2 separate regions of the Homo sapiens genome follow, and region 2 is linked to region 1. Evidence: fine-mapped expression QTL. Tissue or cell type: cultured neurons. Region 1 holds a variant in brackets; the other region holds the start of a gene. All regions are shown on one strand. Distances are between the middles of the regions.

The links. PIP is the estimated chance that this variant, and not a neighbour inherited with it, causes the effect. A credible set is the group of variants that fine-mapping cannot tell apart.
Region 2: it holds the start of SYN3-AS1, and the variant in region 1 is the best candidate, but not a certain one, in a credible set for the expression of SYN3-AS1 in cultured neurons (Aygun 2021, PIP 0.65).

Annotation. Positions count from the first base shown.
Region 1 is chr22:33,075,607-33,086,547 of GRCh38, reverse strand. It overlaps a transcript of LARGE1 not described here. Among named protein-coding and RNA genes, the nearest start is that of SYN3, 23 kb to the right of the region's middle. The variant G/T (reference allele first, on the strand shown) is at 4,268.
Region 2 is chr22:32,568,284-32,579,224 of GRCh38, reverse strand. SYN3-AS1 (SYN3 antisense RNA 1) reads right to left here and starts at 4,286. Exons shown (of 4, transcript XR_001755503.2): 1 at 1-4,286. The region is part of intron 7 of SYN3 (synapsin III); the gene reads left to right.

The DNA.
Region 1 (10,941 bases):
AGAAGAACTTCAATTATGCCACCAAACAATTGTCCATATAATTGAAGACTTTTCTAACAATATCAAAGGTAAATTTATTCAAATATGAATAAATTGAAAGGACTTCATTTTAGCTTTAAATGAGTTGAGAATAATAGAGACACTACCCAACCTGGGGGCAGGTTGTCTCAAAATGCTTGCAAATTTAGAAGACAAAAATCTGTTATCAACCCATGACCTAAAATATGGAACTCGTAGCAAAGTTATTTTAAACTCTTTTATATCTGCCAAAGAATAATTTTACTTAGATGTGGGAAATAAAATTTTTCTATCATGGTGGATGGTGTTCAAACTATTTTAGATTTTTTTTAAAAATCCAAATTTATTGGAATTTAAAACAACAGACTGATACTATCTTTATTGCTTCATTTCACTAAGTACTATGAAAATATTTGTACTCTGAAGCATATTTTTCCGAAGCATATTCTGTGAAAGGCCTCATGTGCACAGGTGTTAAAATTCTTCAGTATATACATATAAAAGTTGTGAATTACTGCCAGTTATGGATCTATTGAACAAAATAGAAGACAATTAACTTAACAATCTTGTGATATTTGCTAGTGTTCATCAGTTGTGTGGTGGAACAGTTATACAAAAATTTACTGTATTATTAACTCCATTTGCTTGAAGCAAAATTCACCAAATCAAAGACAAAAAATGACATTGTGATTTACATTCCTAGACAATATCACACTCATATAAACAAGCTAAATTTGAAGTTTCATGGAACGAAAAGGTTTATTTGTGACTCAGCAAGACCAGTATGAGAATTTGCTGAAATTATAATTTTCATTATACAAATCAACAATAATTATATTACACATTTTTCTAATGTGAATTAATATGCAGAAGATTGTAATTGACAGTATTATGTACATTGGCTGCAAAAATGACAAGACAAATTTGAAGAACATTGTATTGATATTAGTAAATTTAGAGCTGCTTTCCAATTTTTGCAATACCCTTTTGAACCCAATGTTGATACTGAGTTGACATAAGAGTTAGTGAATTTACTGTGGACAGACATGATTTTGAAATGAATATGCTTTGGCTTCAAAGCATATTCAAAGTCAAATTGATTGTTCTAAAATGATGAGCCAGTTTTGTCAATATAGATTTAAAAATTAAATGAAAATGATGCTTTGATATTCCATTCTGTTTTTAGAAAACTTTTAAGTTTGTTTCAAACAGCTTGAGCATGTGATTCTACTGTTTATTTTTTTATTTTTCTTTGAGACGGAGTCTCGCTCTGTCACCCAAGCTAGAGTGCAGTGGCGCGATCTCGGCTCACTGCAATCTTCGCTTCCCGGGTTCAAGTGATTCTCCTGCCTCAGCCTCCCGAGCAGCTGGGACTACAGGTGCCCGCCACCACACCCAGTTAATTTTTGTATTTTTAGTAGAGACGGGGTTTTGCCATGTTGGCAAGGCAGGTCTCGAACTCCTGACCTCAGGTGATCCACCCTCCTTGGCCTCCCAAAGTGCTGGGATTACAGGTGTGAGCCACTGTGCCTGGCCAATTCTACTGTTTTTGAGAATATGCTTTATAAAATCTAAATATAGATAAAATATTTTTGATGAAAATTAGCTTATAAATTAAGATGTGCTGTCAGTGTAAAATACTCACTAGATTTTGAGGATGTTGTTATAATAAAAAGAATGTGAACTATCTAGTTGATAATTTTCCATGTTGATTAGATGTTGAAATGGTAGTATTTGTATATATTGGGTTAAATAAACTACATTATGAACATTAATTTCATCTGTTTCTTTTTACTTTTTAATGTGGTTGCTAGAAAATTTAAAATTACATATGTGGCTTACATTATATTTCTGTTTGTTTGTTTTGTTTTTTTTGAGACCAGGTCTCACTCTGTTGCCCAGACTGAAGTGCAGTGTTGCTATCATGGCTCACTGCAGCCTCAACCTCTTGGGGTTCAAGCAATCCTCCCACCTCAGCTCCCAAGTAGCTGGGACTACAGGTGTGAGCCACCACACCAGGCTTTTTTTTTTTTTCGAGAGACAAGGTCTCACTATGTTGTCCAGGCTGGTCTCAAACTCCTGGGCTCAAGCCATCCTCCCACCTTGGTCTCCCAAAGTGTTGAGATTAAAGGCATGAGCCACTGTGCCTGACCTTGCATTATATTTCTATCAGACAGCAATGAGGGTATAGACATCAATAAGACCTAGTTCCTTCCTTCAAGCAGAAAACTAAACACAGAAACAGCCAATCATAAAACATTATGGAAGTCAAGGGATGGAATTCAAAGATGCTGAAGAAGTATCAGAGAGTGTACCTAACTCAGCTTGGGGAAACCAAGGAGGACTTCTTTGAGGAGGCGATAACTGAATTTGATCTTAAAAGAGGAGTAGAGATTAAATAAATAAGAAAAAATAAACATGACTTTCCAATGGAATGGTCATTTTCAACAATGGGCTATAGGAGTGAAGTAGCAAACTCATGTGGGAGACAAAAAGCAGTTCTGGTTTACTGGGGTGTAAAGTGTAAGGAAGATATGGCTGGAGATCAGGCTGAAGAGGCAAATTAGATCATGAGGGGCCTGGTAGATTGTGCTAAGATTGGGACTTATTCTATAGGTGACAGCTAAGGGTTTTAAGTAGAGCACTCAGGCAGTAAACCCTGTAAACTCTTGCTGGGAGGTTTTCCTTTCCCAATCTGTTTCACTGTGGAAGTGGGAGTACTGATCATTTTCATTGCTTGATTGAACTGAGTCAGTGGCAGGGACCTTTCTCAAGAGATGACCTCTTACATTGTGTGGCAGCTGGTTTCGTGTCACTAGAGACAGTCCTCCCTCATTCAACACACTTCGAACTCACAAAGCTGATTAATTTAGCCTTAAATCTCAGCATTTATTTATTCCACTGATCACTATCTGATATATTATATATTTTTTCATGGTTCAGACTTTCCCCTACTGAAATGTAAGCTGAGTGAAACAGAGACTCTGTCAGTTCATGACTATATCCTTAGAGACTTTCATATAGCAAGTGCTCAGTGAGTACTTTTGAACAAATAATCACATTAGATAAGATAGTGACACCTACTGACAATGTGTAGTATTGTAATCTAGCTCTACTGCACTCTGTAATTACTTGGATATGACACCTAAGGAAGACAAATTCCATCAGCAGGGAGTCCCTATCTCTGAATGATGCTGACTTAACTGGCCCAAAATTACAACAAGTGAAAAGTCAAGGAAGGCAAATGCATACCTAGAAAATTATGGCAGCCTAGCATAGTGAAAGAACAGAGACTTGAGACTCACATTGACATGGGTTTTCCTCCCCACCTCAGGTATTTACTTGCTGTGTGACACTGGGCAAAGTAATTCACATCTCTAAGCCTTAATTTCCCCATTCATAAGAAAAGGCAATAAAACCAACAGTGTTTTGATATTAGAAATGATATATTTAGAGTGTCTACTGTAAATGGTAGTTTATTATTTTTATTTTTATTTTTATTTTGAGACGGAGTCTTCACTGTGTCACCCAGGCTGGAGTGCAGTGGCATGATCTCAGCTCACTGCAAGCTCCGCCTCCCGGGTTCACACCATTCTCCTGCCTCAGCCTCCCAAGTAGCTGGGACTACAGGTGCCCGCCACCACGCCCGGCTAATTTTTTGTATTTTTAGTAGAGATGGGGTTTCACCGTGTTAGCCAGGATGGTCTCGATCTCCTGACCTCATGATCCACCCACCTCAGCCTCCCAAGGTAGTTTATTAAGTATTAGTTTCTGTATAAGGCTTTATGGAGGGGAGGGAACTTGTCTGTTGCTAACTATCTCTCCTTCATTGTGGTCCGGAAGGAGCTTTGAAATCATTCCCATGCATTTGGTTTTTCAGAGAAGGTATTTCTCTGCTCATTTCATTGCAGGCCATTTCCTGGCCTTGCACAGTGAGTGAATAAGTAAATGCGTAGATTGCTCAGACTTCTGAGATCAGAAACCTTTCTCAGGAGGTTTTCCAGGCACAAGAAAATCAATAGCAGATGTCAAGCAGCTTCAAAGCTGATTACCTTGAAATGAATGGTCACACCTCCTTTCCAGCCAGGTCTCCATCTTTCTCTTGTTCAAGGGTCAGCTGCAATACATTAGATCCCTAATTAAGAAAGAAGATGATCAGCAAATGACTCCTCTGAGCAGAATACTAAACAACCGGAAGGGTCTTGGAACAGATCTGCTGGCATCTGCACAGAGGAAGAACATGTAGATA[G/T]AATTGAAGCTGCCTTAATTGGTAGTGGTGTAGGGATTGTATTTCACTGCTCTGCTGGGAGTAATAAAGGCCGACATTATAATCAGTGCGGCAGTAGAGAAATGGAAACTTAGAATCTGAGCTGCTCTGCTATTCAACTAGAGCCAGTGAAAAGGAAATGGATACTCTTGGCTGGTTGAAAATGTAGAGCCTCCACCAAATAATTAAAATACCCTTGGCAGGGTAAAACTAGACCCTACACCTAATAATAATAATAATAACAACGACAATAACAACAATATTATCTATGGAGTGAAGCTGACCTCGATTTAAATTCTTTGTCTATTACCCATTTAGCCTAAAGCATATTGCTTAGCCTCCCTGAATCTCCCTGAATCTTATCATTTATAAAATGGGATCATGGAAAATGTTAAATAATTAATCTATCATAACTGGCAGAATTCCCAGCACAGAGAAAGCTTGCAGACAATGAAAATCTCTTTCTCCCCTCCCTTTCCCTATGTGCTATTCAAAGTGTCTTTATATTTGTCAGATGTTCCCAGTCTAGGTTCTGGATAGACATGAGGGTAGAAGGCTACAAAACCTCTGGTATTTTATGCAAAATGTCATATGAATGTGGTCTTTTCTGATGAGCATGTCCATAGTTTTCAGCAGATTCTCAAAAAGGGTTAATCTCTCAAAAAGTTTGAAAAAATCCCTGGTATATTTTATCTTTCTTTTATGACTTGGCCTCTGCTTCCCCCTGCACCCGTATTGCCTACTGTTTTCTTCCTCATCACTGTATTCCAGCTACTCTGACTCCCTTTATTCCTCAAAGATGCCATGCTCATTCCTGCCTCAGTCTTTTACTTATCATTCTTTCTCCTCCCTACGTCTTCACATGCAAAACTTAGCTCACAGGTTACTTCTGGAGATGGTCCTTCCCTGACATCCTAATCCAAAGAATCTTCTCCAGTTACTTTCTATTGTATCAGTATTAATCTGTTCAGGCAGCTATAGATTGCTGCATAGACTGGGTGATTTAAACAATAGACATTTATTTCTCACAGTTCTGGAGGCTGGGAAGTCCAAGATCAAGGTGCCAGCTAATTCAGTTCCTGGTTAACGTTCTCTTCCTGACTAGTAGATGGCCACTTTCTCATTATGCTGTCACATGGCAAAGAGAGAGTGATTACCTTCAAAAGGCCCTATGTCCACATACCTCACACTGGGGAATAGGGATCCAACATATGAATTCTGAGGCAAAACAGTTCAGTCCAGAACTGTGTGCCAATTACTACAAGAGTGGATGGATGGATGGATGGATGGATGGATGGATGGATGGATGGAAGACAGATGGATGAACGGATGAGCAGATGGATAGATGGATGGATGGATGACTTTTGAGTGCATCCCTGTAAGGCATAGAAGAAAAGTTTCTTTTCCCATTTTACAGATGGGTAAACTGAACCGAGGTTCAGTGCCTCAGAAAAGGCTTATGGACAGCAGTTAAGAGTATTCTCTGGAGCTAACTGCCTGAATTCAAATCCCAGCTTTACCACTTATAAATTATGTAACTTTGGGCAAGTTACTTAATCTCTCTGTTCTTCAGTGTCCTCATCTGCAAAATGCTGCTAATAATTATATATGATATTAGTCATTAGAGCTGTTCACCAGTATTCTGATTCTTCCACTTCTAGGCACATAAGCCATGTGTTCCATGCCCACGTGAAGTTAGGTCTGGATATCAAATGTGAGCTGAAGTGTCTGTGTCATCCCCTTGTGGAAACTTTTAAGAGCTAATGTGAGATTTGCCCTTTCCTGTTCTCTGACATAAAATCTGAAACATTCTGTATGAAGGTCATTTTCTTAGCCTGCATCCTGGGGTGAAGACAGAGTGGAACGGAATTCCCATGAACCTACAACGAACAAAGAGCACGAGTGAGAAACAAACTACTGAGATCTGGTGGTTGTTTGTTATCACAGCATAACCTAGCTAAGCTTGACAAATACACATATATACCAACTTACTGAGCTCTTGTAAGAATTAAATGAGGTGATGCAAGTAACATGATTCAAAAACATCTGGCACATAGTAGACACTACATAAGTGCTTGCAATAATTATTACTCAGTGAATGTCGAAGCTAAGACTAAAACTCATGTTTCCTGGGGCTATAATTATAAAACAAATTTTACTGCACTTTTTAATTCTTAAATCTACAAAGGAACATTTGAGAGGAAGAGGGGAGGATCCACAGAAGCCTTCCCTCCACATGCCTGCCACCTCTGGCTCTAAGAAACCCAGCACCTGGAGGCAATGAGGACAAGTTCCTGAGCACATGCAAGAGGACAGTCCCCCTGATAGCTCTCTTGTGCTCTGCCAGGCCAATGATGCCATTGTCGGAGAAAAGAGCCATGATCAATTTTCATGGGTTTTGCCCTCAACGGGTCATTCCTGTTCATCTTTTCCTTCCTTCTTCTTTTCTTGGGGGCTCAGAGTAAAATTATGTCTTAAGGGGAAAGTTCCAAGCAGCACTACTTGCTAGGTTCTTCTAAGCAGAATGGACAACTCATTTATTGCCAACCAACTTTGTAAGGAAACTAGAGTTTCCTTAAACGAACTGGGTTGGTACCTCTGAAAAGCTTAGAGACACTTGAAAACAAATAATAGAGTGTGATCCAGTCTAGTCTATCTTATCAGTAACATAGCAGTGAGGAGTTAATAGGCATCAAAAATAATAAAAGTTGTAGGTAATAAGAATGATAACTAGATGGCCAGGTGTGGTGGCTCACGCCTGCAATCCCAGAACTTTGGGAGGCCAAGACGGGCAGGTCATGAGGTCAGGAGATCGAGACCATGCTGGCTAACACAGTGAAACCCCATCTCTACTGAAAATACAAAAAATTATCCGGGCGTGGTGGCGGGCGCCTGTAGTCCCAGCTAGTTGGGAGGCTGAAGCAGGAGAATGGCGTGAACCCAGGAGGCGGAGCTTGCAGTGAGCCGAGATCACGCCACTGTCCTCCAGCCTGGGTGACAGAGTGAGACTCTGTCTAAAAAAAAAAAAAAAAAAAAAAAAAGAATGATAACTAGATATCATGGAGACTTATGTCAGGCACCGCTGCCTCTAAGCGCTTTATGTACCTTAATCATTTAATCATCACCCTACACTACTAGGGAGTTACTAGTATTACCATCCTCATGGCATAGATGAGAAACTGAGGCACAAGAAGCTAAGGAACTCAACACTGACACCAAGTAGAGCCAGGTTCAAGCCCAGGCCATCCAGCTCCAGCATCCATGCTTGTAGTTAGTGTGCTGTGTTGTCTCTCACCTGTTTAAGGTGTTACGTAGTTTCACACTTCCATGCCTTTGCACGTGATATTTTCTCTCACATTTTAAAACTTAGATCAAGAGACATCTCATCTGTGGAGCTTGCCCTGACCTCGCCTCTAACCCTCTCCTTTGAGGCAGTCACTTACTTTTCTGTGACCCTCTGTGCCTTTATTACAACAAATTTCACACTAAGTCATGAGTAATTTAGGGGAAGAGACTACATCTTAATAATCTTAGCATCTCTGGTATCTTGCACAGTCCCTGGCACAAAATAAAGGCTAATTCAATGTTGTTGAATTGATTTGTAAGGATTCAAAAAACATGAGTACATAGAGGGCAATACAATATAGTGACAGACAGCATTGGTTGTGGAGTCAGACTGCCTGGCTTCAAATCCTGGTCAGTAATTTTCATAACTAACTGGTATGACCATGGACATGTTAACTTATTTTTCTGTGCCTCGATATTTTCCTCCTATACAATGGGTATAATAACAGTACATGTTGTAATGGATTATTACATGGATTAAATTAGATAATGTAGCAAAGAACTTAACCTGGGTCCTGGCACATAGTAGGTGCTCAATAAATATTGGCTCCTACTGCCTGAGCTTCCTGGTACATTTCTCGCTAAAGATGTATTATAGCTATGCCTATCACTGACTAATGAGGAAAGAGCCTCATATGAATATGGCTAAATGATGACAATTTGGCAGACTTAGAGGTGTAAACCAAATTATCTGTAAAGCTGCAGGACTCTAGTTAATGTAGTCCATGACCAACAGCAATCAGCAAAAGCACTCAGCATTTTTTTTCCATTCAGATGGATGGAGGCAAAGCAGTCAAAACTAGGGAAAGAGAAATCACCGGAGAAAATTGATTACACCATTACCAGTTATTTTCTGGGACAATACTAATATAGCTTTCATTATTTCTTTTTTACGCCAGTCTTCTACTGCAAATTGCAAATAGTACATGCAGTTCAGATTTCACTCAAAAGGAGACTAGTTTTGAAAAAAAAAAGGAAACGAAACAAAGGTGCATAAACACCTTCATCCTAGATGGACATGAACTACAGATTATTATACTCAGTGTATAAGTGAAATGTAAAGTGAAGAATGTTCAGTATTAAAATTTAGACTAACGATGAAATGAACCTTAAACTGCACCGTCAGAATTATTTTAATAACTGAATTAGAGGTGAAGACAGTAAACCAAAAAGCATAAAATGTTCTAATCCCTGTGTTAAGATGATCAGGTAAAATATGCATAATATATGTTTAGGATCTACATGCTAATTGTACTGATTGGAAAAGGCATGCACAAATACCCCTTCTCTTTCTATCCCCTCAAGGAAAAAAGATTAAAATATTGGAAATTCATCTCGTTTTATTGTGAGGCTGTTATAGCTCAGTATTAAAGAAAGACTTGATCACTTATAGAAAATGCCCCTTTCATATCCAATCTGCTCTCCACATTACTAACATTAGGGAATCCAAATATTAAGAAGCAGTAAAATGGCGTCTTATTTAGATGTATTAGTCTTATAAAACCTAAATAAGAGCCCAGATTTCTAAACAGCCTAGGTTTAAATCTGAGTGCCAAAAGTACTATATGACTCTGGGGTAGTTACTTAGGCACTCTATGAGGTTCCTCACTTTATAATGGGAATAATAATAGTACCTAGATCATGTACTATTGTAAGTAATTAGTAAATTAGTATGCCTGGTACATAATAAGCACTCAATAACTTTAATCATTATTATGTAACTTGTATGTACTATTCCTAAATCTCCTTTTGAAAAGGAATGCAAACAAGGAGTAATAATAATAATAACAATAATACATAGCACTTACACTGTTGCAGGTTCAGTTTTGAGCATTTCTTGTGTATTAACTCTTTTGATCCTCATAGCAACCTTTTGAGATAGTCTTACTGGGTAGAAGTGACATGACTTGCTCAGGGTCACACAGCCAGTGAGTAGTACAACCCTGATAGGAACCCTGGCAGTCTGATTCCAGAGACCTCCCACTTGAGCATTAAATATGTATCCAATTCTTTGAGCACTGTGACTGAATTTATTCACTATTCACTAAAAAGAAAATCCATTGAGAATGAACTCTGGGTCAAGTAACATCCCAGCTCTTAAGATACAACGCTAAAGAAGAAAGAGTCTCTCAAAAAAGTTACAATTTCTATAGCTATATGGCTTATCTTAAGCTTATCTGTGTTTATTTTGTTTATAGACATATGGATAAACACTATTGGACAGATCTGTAGGCTTTTATGAAGTCTAACTCTTTCCCTTTTACCTTTCCCTCTTCCAGCTGAAACATTCACACTTGAAATCTGAAGGACTTGTATAATACAATTCAGCACCACGGACAGCAGGAAAAATCCCATTGACAGAATAAATCTGAAGTTTTCCTTTCAGTATTCATGAAAATCTGGTGCTTCAAAACAGATACACACACATCCAATTAGGTACTCAAAAATATCTTCAGAAGAATCCTAGAAATTACAAAACACAAGTCCTTGGAACAGAGAATGAAAATTGCATCCACAAGGCCACATAGCCAAAGCCAAGAACTAAGCTCCTAGAACTAATCTACTTATAATAAATCCCATCACAAGTATACTGTCACCATCAAGCAGAATTGTGTGTATCTCCAGTGACATGGGTGTGTTTACTATGGCACTTTCTCAAATAGGAATTAAGGAAGAAGTCACGTACTCTGATTTAAGTGCCAGAGAAATATCTTATCCAATCAGTTAGGGAGACTTATTTCCTAACAGTATAACTTATTATTTCCTGTTTCCTAATATTTTTGAAGTCATGGGTTGAAAATGAGTTTCAAGGTCAGGTAGAGGAGAAATAGATTCAAGTTACTACTGCCCTTGCCTTAGACACTGAATTTCTTTGACCTTGTTGAATACATTAGAATTCTTTCCAGCCTATCGATGTTTATTAGATTTGATATTGCCTAATTCTGACATCCCAAAGGAAGGTGACTCACTCGCAGTAAACGTGTTATCATTCTCTAAGGATATGTCTAATCTGCATGACATCGTCTTATCTGGAAGACACATTTTAGGTGGATAGTCCCCAGAGCTCATGAAAGGAAAATTTTCCATTTGTTATGTTTCTCTAATCCTATTCAATTATAACAGCTATGAGAAGCATCTTTGAAGAGGAAGGAATGTGATACCGTGAAGGAAAATAGAATTATAGATTTAATTACTCAAGACCATATTTACTATAATAGTCAGTGCAAAGCTTTTCAAAGAAGTCTTCATTGAGTAAATAAGAATTGTCATAAATCTTTCTCCTCCAAGATCCTTTCAACAATTATTCAGGT
Region 2 (10,941 bases), 510 kb after region 1:
GTGCCAAGCTGTTTGGAGTTAAGGAGTCAATAAATGTTCATTGAATATATTGGCAAACATTTCATGAACATTTGTTATATTTAATCAATGGGTTAGATGCTGGGATGACACACTCATGGTTAAGATTCAGAGATGAAAAAGACATAGCTCCTGTATAAAGGGAATTTACACATATGAAACATAGTCACAGGCTAGACAACAGTCTAGCGCAGGGCTTGGCAAACTACCACCCACAGGCCAAATCTAGCCCCACAACCTGATTTTGTTAATAAAGTTTTATTATAACATGGCCCTGCTTATTTGTGCACATAATGTCTGTGGCTACTTTCACACTACAAAATCAGAGTTCAATAGTTTTTATGTCCTACAAAGCCTAAAATATTTACCACTGGACTCTTTACAGGAAACGTTTGCCAATCTCTGGCCTAACACAATGCTTTTCCAAAAATGTGTACAATAAACCCCAATGAGGAATACATTTTGTCTTGCCACCTGATTGCTAGATACTGTATATTGACCAAGATAAGTTTTACAGAATAATACTTGCCCTTACTATGTTCAAGGAATTGTGATATCTTCAGTTCTAGTGTATTTTATTTTTTAAAATGTTGGTTGTGATCCATTAAGTTGATTTGATGACCAATTTCAAACTCACAGTTTGAAAAATATTGGCTTGACTAGGGTCAGTGGCTCATGCCTGTAATCCCAACACTTTGGGAGGCAGAGGCAGGTGGATAGCTTGAGTCCAGGAGTTCAAGACCAACCTGGGCTACATGGCAAAACCCATCTTTACTAAAAATAAAAATAAAAAAATGCCAGGTGTGGTGGTGCACACCTGTTGTCCTGGATACCTGGGAGGCTGAGGTGGGAGGATCACCTGAATATGGGAGATTGAGGCTGCAGGGAGCCATGATCATGCCACTGCACTCCAGCCTAGGCCCCAGAGTAAGACCCTGTCAGAAAGAGAGAGGGAGAGAGAGAGAAAGCAAGAAAGAAAGAAAAGAAAGAAAGAAAAAGAAAGAGAGAGAAAGAAAGAAAGAGAAAGAAAGAAAAGAAAAGGAAAGAAAGAAAATACTGGCTTACTAGAAAGCAAATCATCTTCATTCATTCGTGTATTGAAGAAGTATTTATAGCATCCAGGCACTTTGTACATGCCAGGCACTATTCTAGGCACTGGAGATGCAATATCAAACACAATCAAGTCCCTGCCCCATGCAGCTTACATGCTATGGAGGGAAGCAGATGAAGAAAAGAATAAACAAATAAATCTTCCATATATCAGGAGATGAGAAGGGCTCTGAAAAAGAAAGACACCAAGTAAGAGGCAGAGTGTGACGAATGTGATCAGAGAAGCCTTTCTGTGAGGTGCCATGTAAAGGAAGGAGAGAGTGAGTCATGTGGACATGTGGAGGAAGGGCATGACAGCAGAAGGAACAGCACAGACGAAGGCCCTGGGGCAGGAACAGGGAGGTCAAGGAACAGGGAGGAGGCCAATGGAGCAGGAGTGAGTGCTTGAGGTAAAAAGTGGTAGGAAATAAGCTCCCAGAGTGAGGACAGGTGGTGGAGGAAGATCATGTAGACAATGTACTGTGATCAAGGCAGAATGAATAAACTCTAAAGCAGAAATATAAGCCAAGAGCTGAGAATCCAGTTAGAGTCATGATGGAGGACAAATCTCCAATGATATTTTCATTTATCAAAAAAACATGTAAGTGTGTGTAGACGCTGTACTTAGACAACCACAACAGTGTGAGGATCCAAAGATGAATGGACATTGGGCCTCCCAAGGGGGTCCCTTTCTAGCAGGAATCTAGCCATGCAAGCAAATGATTACATTGTCATAGCAGGAAATGTCATGGGCAACAGGAGCCCCTTCGAGGGGGTCCCAGGGAAGACTTCCATAAAGGTGGGAAACTTCAGCTGTGTCTCCAAAGATAAGGAGACATCGCAGGTAGAAAAAGCAGAGCAAACTGTCCAACACAGCAGGACCTACACACAAAAGCATAAAGGCCCAAGCAAGCTGCTCAGAATGGGGGGAAGCAGCGATGCTTAACCCTGGCAGTGCATTCGAAGCACCCGGGAAGCTTGTAAATTCCACTTCTGCCCAGGGCCTAATCCCAGGGACTCTAATGTGATTGACTGGAGTAAGGCCCAGATGCTGGCATTGTATTATCCCCTGGTGATGCTAATGTGAAGCCAGTGTGGACAAGCCCTGGGCTGGAGTGAGGCCAGGAAGAGAAAGTGAGACTGGGGCCAGATCATGAGAGTGTTTCATGCTACACTCTAGAATACAGGCTTTATCTTCTTGGTGAGAGAGACCCACTGGTGGGTTTCAAGCAAAGAATAGGCATGGTCAGATTCATAAGGGAAAAAAGGCGTCCTGGCAGTGGTGTGAAGAGAAGAGAGGGGTGGGGGTTGGAAGCGGGGGATTAGGGCCCCATTAGGAAGAAACTGCGGCAGTTCAGAGAAGAGATGATAAGGGTTTGTACCCAGGCAGGAAGCAAGGCCGTGAGGAATGAGATAAGGATGCAGTCGAGTGATATGAAAAACGGCAGACTTGAATGAATTTGGGAACTGACTGTGCCAGGCGGGAAAAGAACTCAAGATTATCACGATTCCATTACTGAAGTGTACAATCAAGAAAAAATGGCTTGAAGGGGAAAGAGAATGGGTTCAGGTTTTAACATTTTGAATTTGAAATACCTTACGGAAAATAGTCACCATCATAAACCGTGTATTTATTGACCGCATACTAGGTGCCAGGCCCTGTGCTTCGTAGTTCATGTGCGTTTTCCTACTCAGTTGTCACAGCAGCTCTCTGGGGTAGGTAATCTGATTAAACCCATTTACAGAAGGGAAAACTGAAGCTCAGACAAGCGAAGCCAGTGGGAAGAATGGTGAATTACATCCATTATGGTGTGCACGGGATACTCGGCACAGAGCTTGGCACATGGTGAATGCTCAGAGAATGGCCATACTATTAATAGTTATTATCTCTTCCCCACTGTGGGAAGACCTCAAGCCAGGTCTGCGAGAGAGGGAATCAGGAATACTTGGGAGCCCTGTGGATATGTGGGTGCCTCAGAGTGTCTATATGTCGATAGAACCATACTCAGGCCATTGCTTCATTTTATTTCCGGCTTCCTAATGAGGGCATCTCAAATACTCTTGATATTACCCCCTCACCAGCCCTATCCCACGACCGCTCATCATTATTTTATTTTTTTAAATTTCTTCCTACAAAGTTAATCTCAATGTACTCACATCTGTTCTGTTCTGTGAGGGAAATTGTGTTGTTGGCCACGCAGCCGGAATAGGTTTGTTTTTTTTTGTTTGTTTTGTTTTGTTTTTTGTCTTGAGGAAAGAAGGGGAACTTTATTTATTTTTTAATATAGCTCCTCTTGCCTGGTCCCATGCCAAATAAACAAAGCTGCTATTCATTTCCGTATCTCCCCATCTCTACCGTGCCCAGAGTCATTTTAGCAGCAGCGCCTCTTGGGCTGCCTCTCCGAGAGCCTGGAACAGCAAATAAGAATGTCCTAAAAGTGAGTGCTGTGAAAATAGAATCCTATTTAATGAGACCGCAGAGAGCAAGACCGTTGCTCTCTTGGTGAGTGGAGGAGCAAACATTATGTTTAAAGTTGTGGTCGGAAAATGCTGGATCCTCAAATGTGGCCTCAGCTAAAAGCATCAGCCAGTGCATCGCAGGTCATGACTCAGGGGCAGGTAGCTGAGGCAGCTGCAGGAAGAACTTAGAACCAGGCTGCCGCCCTCTGGAAGACCCCCACCCCCATGCTTGGGGAACCCCCACCCACTCCCTCGCCAGAACACGTCTGTCATGGTCCTTCTCTTCTTGCCACCGCATCTCAATATCAAAGCTGACTCGACTTGTGTCCCATTCATGGAATCACAAGTATTGGGGTTAAAGAGGACTTCCAAAGATGTGGCGTCCAACCTTCCACCCAATGCTTCCTCAACAGTGACCTGGCTTTGCTCTTTTGACTTTGAGCCCTTTGTCCAATGAACAATGAAAACACTTAGTATATTAAACAGATCCTAGTGGAGCTGTTCTGAATGAAAAAAGAAAAGAGATCTAGAGACCCACCCAGCCGGGCTCCCGGCATGGCGCCATTCCCTCCATAGAATTCAGTTTGAAAACCACCCGCTTAGGTCAAAAGAGGGCCTAGGTACCAGGGTCAGCATCCCTTTATTCATTCAGTAAATTGTTCCTAAACACCTGCTAGTGTGCAAGGAGCAGGGAATACATTTGCGAGTTTAAAAGACCAAGTCCCTACTCTCATAGAGCCCATATTTTGCTTATTATTTTGGAGGGTATAGAAAACTATTAATACAAAATAATTTCAGACAGTGCTAAGTGCGAGGAAAAACACAAAACAGAGTAATGCAATAGCATATGACTGGGAGTAACAGATGGGCTGCTTTAGATGGGATGATCCATCAGCTATTCAGATCATGAGAAGGCGCTGCCTAGCTATGGGACTGGCTGCAGCGAGAGCTTTGCAGGCAGAGGGAGTACCAAGGGCAAAGTCCCTGAGGCAACACTGAGCTTGGTGAGTTCTAGGAAGTAAAAGAGAGAGGGAGGGGGCAAGTGGTAGGAGATGAGGTCAGAGAAACCAGCAAGGCTAAACCACATTAGCCCCTGTAGGTGCATGTTATGAAACACTAGCAAGCGTGGGTTGTGTTCAGGTGCTGTTGGCATCGAACACGATGGTGATTTTTTTTAAAGAGATGGAGTCTGTCTCTGGTGCCCAGGCTGGAGTACAGTGACGTGATCATAGCTCACTGTAGCCTCAAACTCCTAGGCTCAAGCCATCCTCCCACCTCAGCCACCCAAGTAGCTGGGACTACTGGCGTGCACCACCAAACATGGCTACTTTTTTTATTTTGTTAGAGACAGGGTCTCACTATGTTGTCCAGGGTGATCTTACACTCCTGGCCTCAGGCGATCCTCCTGCTCAGCCTCCCGAGTGGCTGGGATTGTGGGTGTGAGCCACTGTACCCGGCTCACGATGGTGGTTTTATTTCCTGCCAAAATAATGAAATTTGGACACTTTCACTTCTTTCCTCATCAAGGAAAGGGCCCTGAGAGGGAGATGAGAGTCCTAACTTAAAAATAAAAAAACCCCAGCCAAGCTCAGTGGCTCATGCCTGTAATCCCAGCATTTTGAGGGGCCGAGGCGGGAGGATTGCCTGAGCTCAGGAGTTCGAGACCAGTCTGGGCAACATAGTGAAACCCCGTCTCTACTAAAATAAAAAAAAAAAAAAAATTAGCCGGGCGTGGCAGCGGGCACCCGTAATCCCAGCTACTCGGGAGGCTGAGGCAGGAGAATCACTTGAACCTGGGAGGCGGAGGATGCAGTGAGCCGAGATCACACCACTGCACTCCAGCCTGGGCGACACAGCGAGACTCTGTCTCCCAAAAAAAAAAAAAAAAAAAAACCCCTTCCTTCCCCTGTGAGTTTTCCTTTCCTTTTCCTTTCCAGTTGTACCACCAAAACAGAGTGACTTCCTCTCGGGGGCTGCTGTGTCCTCTTTCAAAACATGAGTGAACTGGGCCACTCAAAACTCTCCTTTTGCATGAAATCCTACAGGAAACTTGAAATCATGGATAAAAGTAGCATTAGATTAGCTGTAATTTTATTCAATAACTTTTCATTTACAACATGTATGATAGAGTTCATCAAGAGAACAATAAGGCCCTTTTGATGAACTCAGTCCTATATTAGCCTCAGCACCCAACTTCCCTTTCTATTTTGTGTCCTTGAATAGCATAGTGTTGACAAAATCACCAGTATTTTACCGGCTTTCTCTGCAATCTCCAAATAAACCAAGATGGAAGGAGAGGCCTTATTCTGAGGATTGCACCAGAAAAGGTCACCCAGGCAGCTCATGTGTGTGGAACATTTGAGTGTCCTTTTTGGATGCTTTAAAGTCAAGCTTTTAAATATTTTATTTTAACAAAATGACAATCAAGCCATTTGTGCAACATGTCATATCCTTACCTGGAATACTGAAAACAGTCATAAACTGTCTTCCAGCCAGTGGTGTGCTGGCAAACTGGCTCTCTGGGGAAAACAGGGGGGAACCCTAATATGTTGTGTTTGCCAGTTTCTGGGGTATAAATATTTCCACCACAAATGATTTCAACCTAACAATGATCTAATAACTGGCTGACAAGATGTCTAAATATTTAACAATCACCTCTTATAAGCAAGTCTGAGCCAGCTCCGGGACACCATTGCTTCCAGCCCTTATCCATGGTTGGTGTTCTTGAGTCGAGCCCCCTCGAATGCTATCATCTGAAAACAAACACCCGCAGTGGCAACGCAAGGCCCTGATAACTTTGGCTGGAGCCAAGGAGGGCCAGTGAGAGTGAGATGGGGAACAGAGGAGTGGAAGACACGAGCTGGAGTTGCTGAAGTCCTGGGGCTGGTGTATTGTCAGAAATGGCCAGAGAGCCAGATATAGTGGCTCCCATCTATAATTCTGACACTTTGGGAGACTGAGGCAGGAGGATTGCTTGAGCCCAGGGGGTCAAGGCTGCGGTGAGCTATCATTGCACCATTGTACTCCAGCCTGGGTGACAAAGTGAGATGCTGTGTCAGAAGGAAAAAAAGAGAGAGAGAAGAGAAGAGAAGGAAGGAAAGAGAAGGAGAGAGAAAAAAGAAAGAAGGAAGGGAGGAAAGAGAAAGGGAGGGAGGAAGGAAGGAAGAAAAGGAAGGGAGGGAAGGAGAAAGAAGGAAGGAAGGGAGGAAAGGAAGGAGGGAAGGAAGGAAGGAAGAAGGAAGGAAAGACAGGAGGGAGGGAGGGAAGGAAGGAAAGATGGGAGGGAGGGTGGAAGGGAAGTAAGGGAAGGAAGGAAGGAAGGGAGGGACGGAAGGAAGGGAAGGGAGTAAGGGAGGGAAGGAAGGAAGGAGGGAGGGAGGGAGGGGGGAAGGAAGGAAGGAAAGGAAGGAAGGAGCCAGAATCTGACTCCAGGGGCAGAAATGGTAACTCCTCTTTAAGCCAAGCTCTCCCAAACCTACCTGTACTTTATACACCTCAGATCACGTCATAGCCTACCTTCCCCTTGAGAATCATACTTCAAGACCCAACTTAAGTACCTTCCCCGCTTAAAGCCTCCTCTGCTTGCCCAAGCATGATGCGATTCATGCCCTCCTGTGAGCGAGCTCTGGGCCTAGCACAGCCCCATCTTACTGCACCATCTCACCATCTGCAGTTTCCTCTTCTGGGCTAGACCTTAAGGGCAGAAACCACAACTGGAGCGCCAACACCGAGCACACAGCCTGATACTCTCATTAGTTTACTCAACAAATACCAACTAAACCCCTACCCAGTGCCAGGCAGTGTTCTGGGCACTGAGGATGCAGTGGTGAACAAAACAAAGCTGATGCCTTCATGAAGGGTTTGATTCTAGAAGACACTCAATAGATAAGACTCTCGAAGTCAGTCCCCTGCAGTTGCTGTTCTTAGGAAGGCTGGCAGAGAAGAACTTTCATTCATTTTATTTTAACCCTAGCTAGAACCCACACATAAACAGTGCCACCTTTCATAGTCTTTTGGTTTTATTTTTTAATTATGACTTTGGGAGAAGGACTTGAAGGTGTATTAAGGTACCATCGCCATAGGTCAAGGGTTGTGGGAGGAGGTTGCTTGTTACATATTTATCCACTATAACCCATTAATAGCTTAGGCTGAGTTGCTTCACAGGTTAGGAAGCCCTGGCCAAAATGATAGATGGAGTGAGCTTAACATGCCTGGAGATAGGATGAGCAAAAGGCCTGAGGCTTTGCCCCTGGTGGCCAGGGTGCCACATAAATCCAAGCTCCTGGAATGGGTAGAGTGAGGCAGATCCTGACCTCCCAGAGCAACCCAGGGCCAGCCACTCCCGCTGCCTACTGGTTGTTCTGGGCACTGGGGATGGAAAGGAAGAAGACAAAGTCAAAGGAGGAGAGAAATGGAGAAGAAAGGAGGATGAGAAGGGGAGGGGGGATGCTCTGGGGAAGTTTGCTCCTTCTCAGACTTAAAACTCTAGGAGAGCCTGAAAGGCCTTCCTCAGACTGCCTCCTGTAGCACCAAAAGCCCTAAAGATGGAGTGGACTGTGGTCATGATTTAGGACACCCTACAGGTCACCCATTCTGTTATTTAGCCAACATTTTAGAAACACACACACACACAATTCCCTCTTGCTCTGCTTAAATATATTTTTAAATGGTGTTTTGTATCACTACCATAGATTATGAGTTTTATGGGCCAGATAATTTTTCCTAATACACCTTGAAATAAATATCTAACTGTTAAAATTATCCATGTTCATTTGTGTCCCCCCTAAATCATCCTGTGGGCCACCAGTGTCACGCATTGTGGGTCACTGGTAGAGAGAAGTCAGCATCCCAGTGCTGAGCAGGCTTGAAGCCAGTGTTGGTCTTTGGCTCATGGGTAAGTAACCCTATCCAAGCTACCTGCTCCTCCCTGTGTGCCTCAGCTGCAAAATGAGAGGGTTGACCAGATGCCAACTCACGTCCCTTCACACTGAGATTCTAAGCTGTTTTTTCTATAAGGGTAGAGTTGCTAAATGCGGCATACTCAGAGCACACTTCTCAGCACCCCACCCTCTCCCTCCCTCCTGAGACTCCTCCCCCGACCCTACTACACCCCCTTTCCCTACTCCCAGATCTACCTGGGAGAGAAACATGCACAGCTTCAACTCCAAAATTAAAATTCAATGTTTTAATCAGAAAACAAAAACCTCCAATTCTTCCTAACCTCAGCACAACGCTCTAGACCCTTTAACTTTGGTAAAGTGAGTCACATCCCCATCTGCATAAAAAAATCTTTACTGCTTTTGGGAAATGTTTACAATGGCCTTTAATTTCCCAGTATTTCACAAGGGAGCCAGACAGACAAGGAGTCTAGCCATCCCCTGGCGGGACCCCACGCTCAGCATCCTCCTCCACTGTCTGTCTTTTGGATATAGACAAACCCCTCCCAAGTCCTGCAGGACAGTCAGCAGGCTTTCCAGTCCTCCCTAGAAGGCAGTGTGTGTGGAGGGAGGTTGGTTAAATACCATGTTTAATCGACCTCGGAAGCTATGCATGAGCAAGATAAGTCCAGCCATTGTGGCACCTAACACACCCTCAGCATGGCCCGTACTAAAAACACTTTTCAGAGGACTGGGAGAGGGGTGTCCATGCCCAGAAAACGTAAGCCATCGGGGCCAGAAAAATGAGGACAATAGCTTTAATGCTATTAATGTATCCTGGACTTTACAAAATCTCTAGATACCTTTTTGATAAAGGTGCTTACGGTTAATGACAAACAGCTAACATTCGTTGCTTTGTGCCTGGCACTGTTCAAATCATTGGGCCAGTTTACTTCTAAATCTTCACAGTAACTCTGTGAAGCAGGTACTATTACAAACCCCATTTTACGGATGAGAAAATTAAGGTTTAGAGAAGTTAAGAAATGTCCCAAGGTCACATAGTTAGGAAGTAGTAAAGCCTGACTCCCAAACCATGCTCAAAGCCATACCTTCCATTTGTGGAGTATTTCGTATTTTTAAAACTCTTATGCATGCAATAATAACCATCACCTAGAAGAAATAGATAGATTTTATATATATATATATATAGAGAGAGAGAGAGAGAGAGAGAGAGAGAGAGAGATTGATTGATTTTAGATAGATATAGATAGATGATACATTTTAGATACAGATAGATTTTAGATCAATTGATAGATTTTAGATAGATAGAGAAGATAGATAGATAGATAGATAGATAGATAGATAGATAGATAGATAGATTTTGGATGGAGATAGATAGATTTTAGATAGGTATAGATGGATAGATAGATATATTTTGGATGGATAGAGATAGATAGATAGATTTTATATAGATAGGTGTAGATAGATAGATAGATAGATAGATAGATAGATAGATAGATAGATTTTGGATGCATAGAGATAGATAGAAAGAAAGAATTAGGTAGATAGAATTTCTAATCCTCCCAACTCTCTGAGGGTGAGTATAAATATTATCATCTCCATTTTACACATGAGGAAATTGAACCCCAGAAAGACTTAAGAACTCATTCCAAATCATGGCATTTGTAAGTCCCTAAGCTAGGATGTGAATCTAGACCATCCTGACCCCGTCATCTATATACTTGCATTGTGCTGCCTGCAAAATTTCTTCTGATTCCTCTAACAACTTTGTGACTTGCATGGGAAGAATGTGTGTCATAGTGCAGCCTAAACACCCATCAAATGGAATTCTACAAACCCAGCCTGATTGATTAGCTTCAGGAGGCCCCTCAGTATTCAGGCAATACAAAGTAATACATCCCCTAGGACACTCTCCGGTTGTGTCTTTCAAAGTCTTTGCAAACTAGCTATTTTCTACCAATTTGTTACCAACCTAGCTAGCTAGGTATCCACCTATCTGTCTGCTACAGATATGTTAAAATATGTTATATGCTAAAGTCCTACCCCCCAAGGTGATGGAATTAGGAGGTGGAGCCTTCGGGAGGTCATGAGGGCAGATCCCTGAGGAATGGGATTAGTGTCTTTCTAAAATAGGCCCTGGGAGCTTGTTTGTCCCTTCCATCCTGTGAGGTTACAGGAATAAATCAGGGCCTCACCAGACACTGAATCCACCTTGACCTTGGACTTCCCAGCCTCCAGAACAGTAAGAAATACGTTTCTGTCCTTTATAAGCCACCCAGTTTATGGTATTTTGTTAGAGCAACCCCAATGGACCCAAGACACTATCTGCTTATTTGTTTTCCATTTCCCTGACTAGAATATACCTGTCTTATTTATGACTGTATTCCCAATGCCTAGCACAGTACCCTCAATAAATATTTGTAGACTAAATACAAAGCCCTGTGGAAGTCCAGAGGAGGAAAGAGAAATTCCTAGG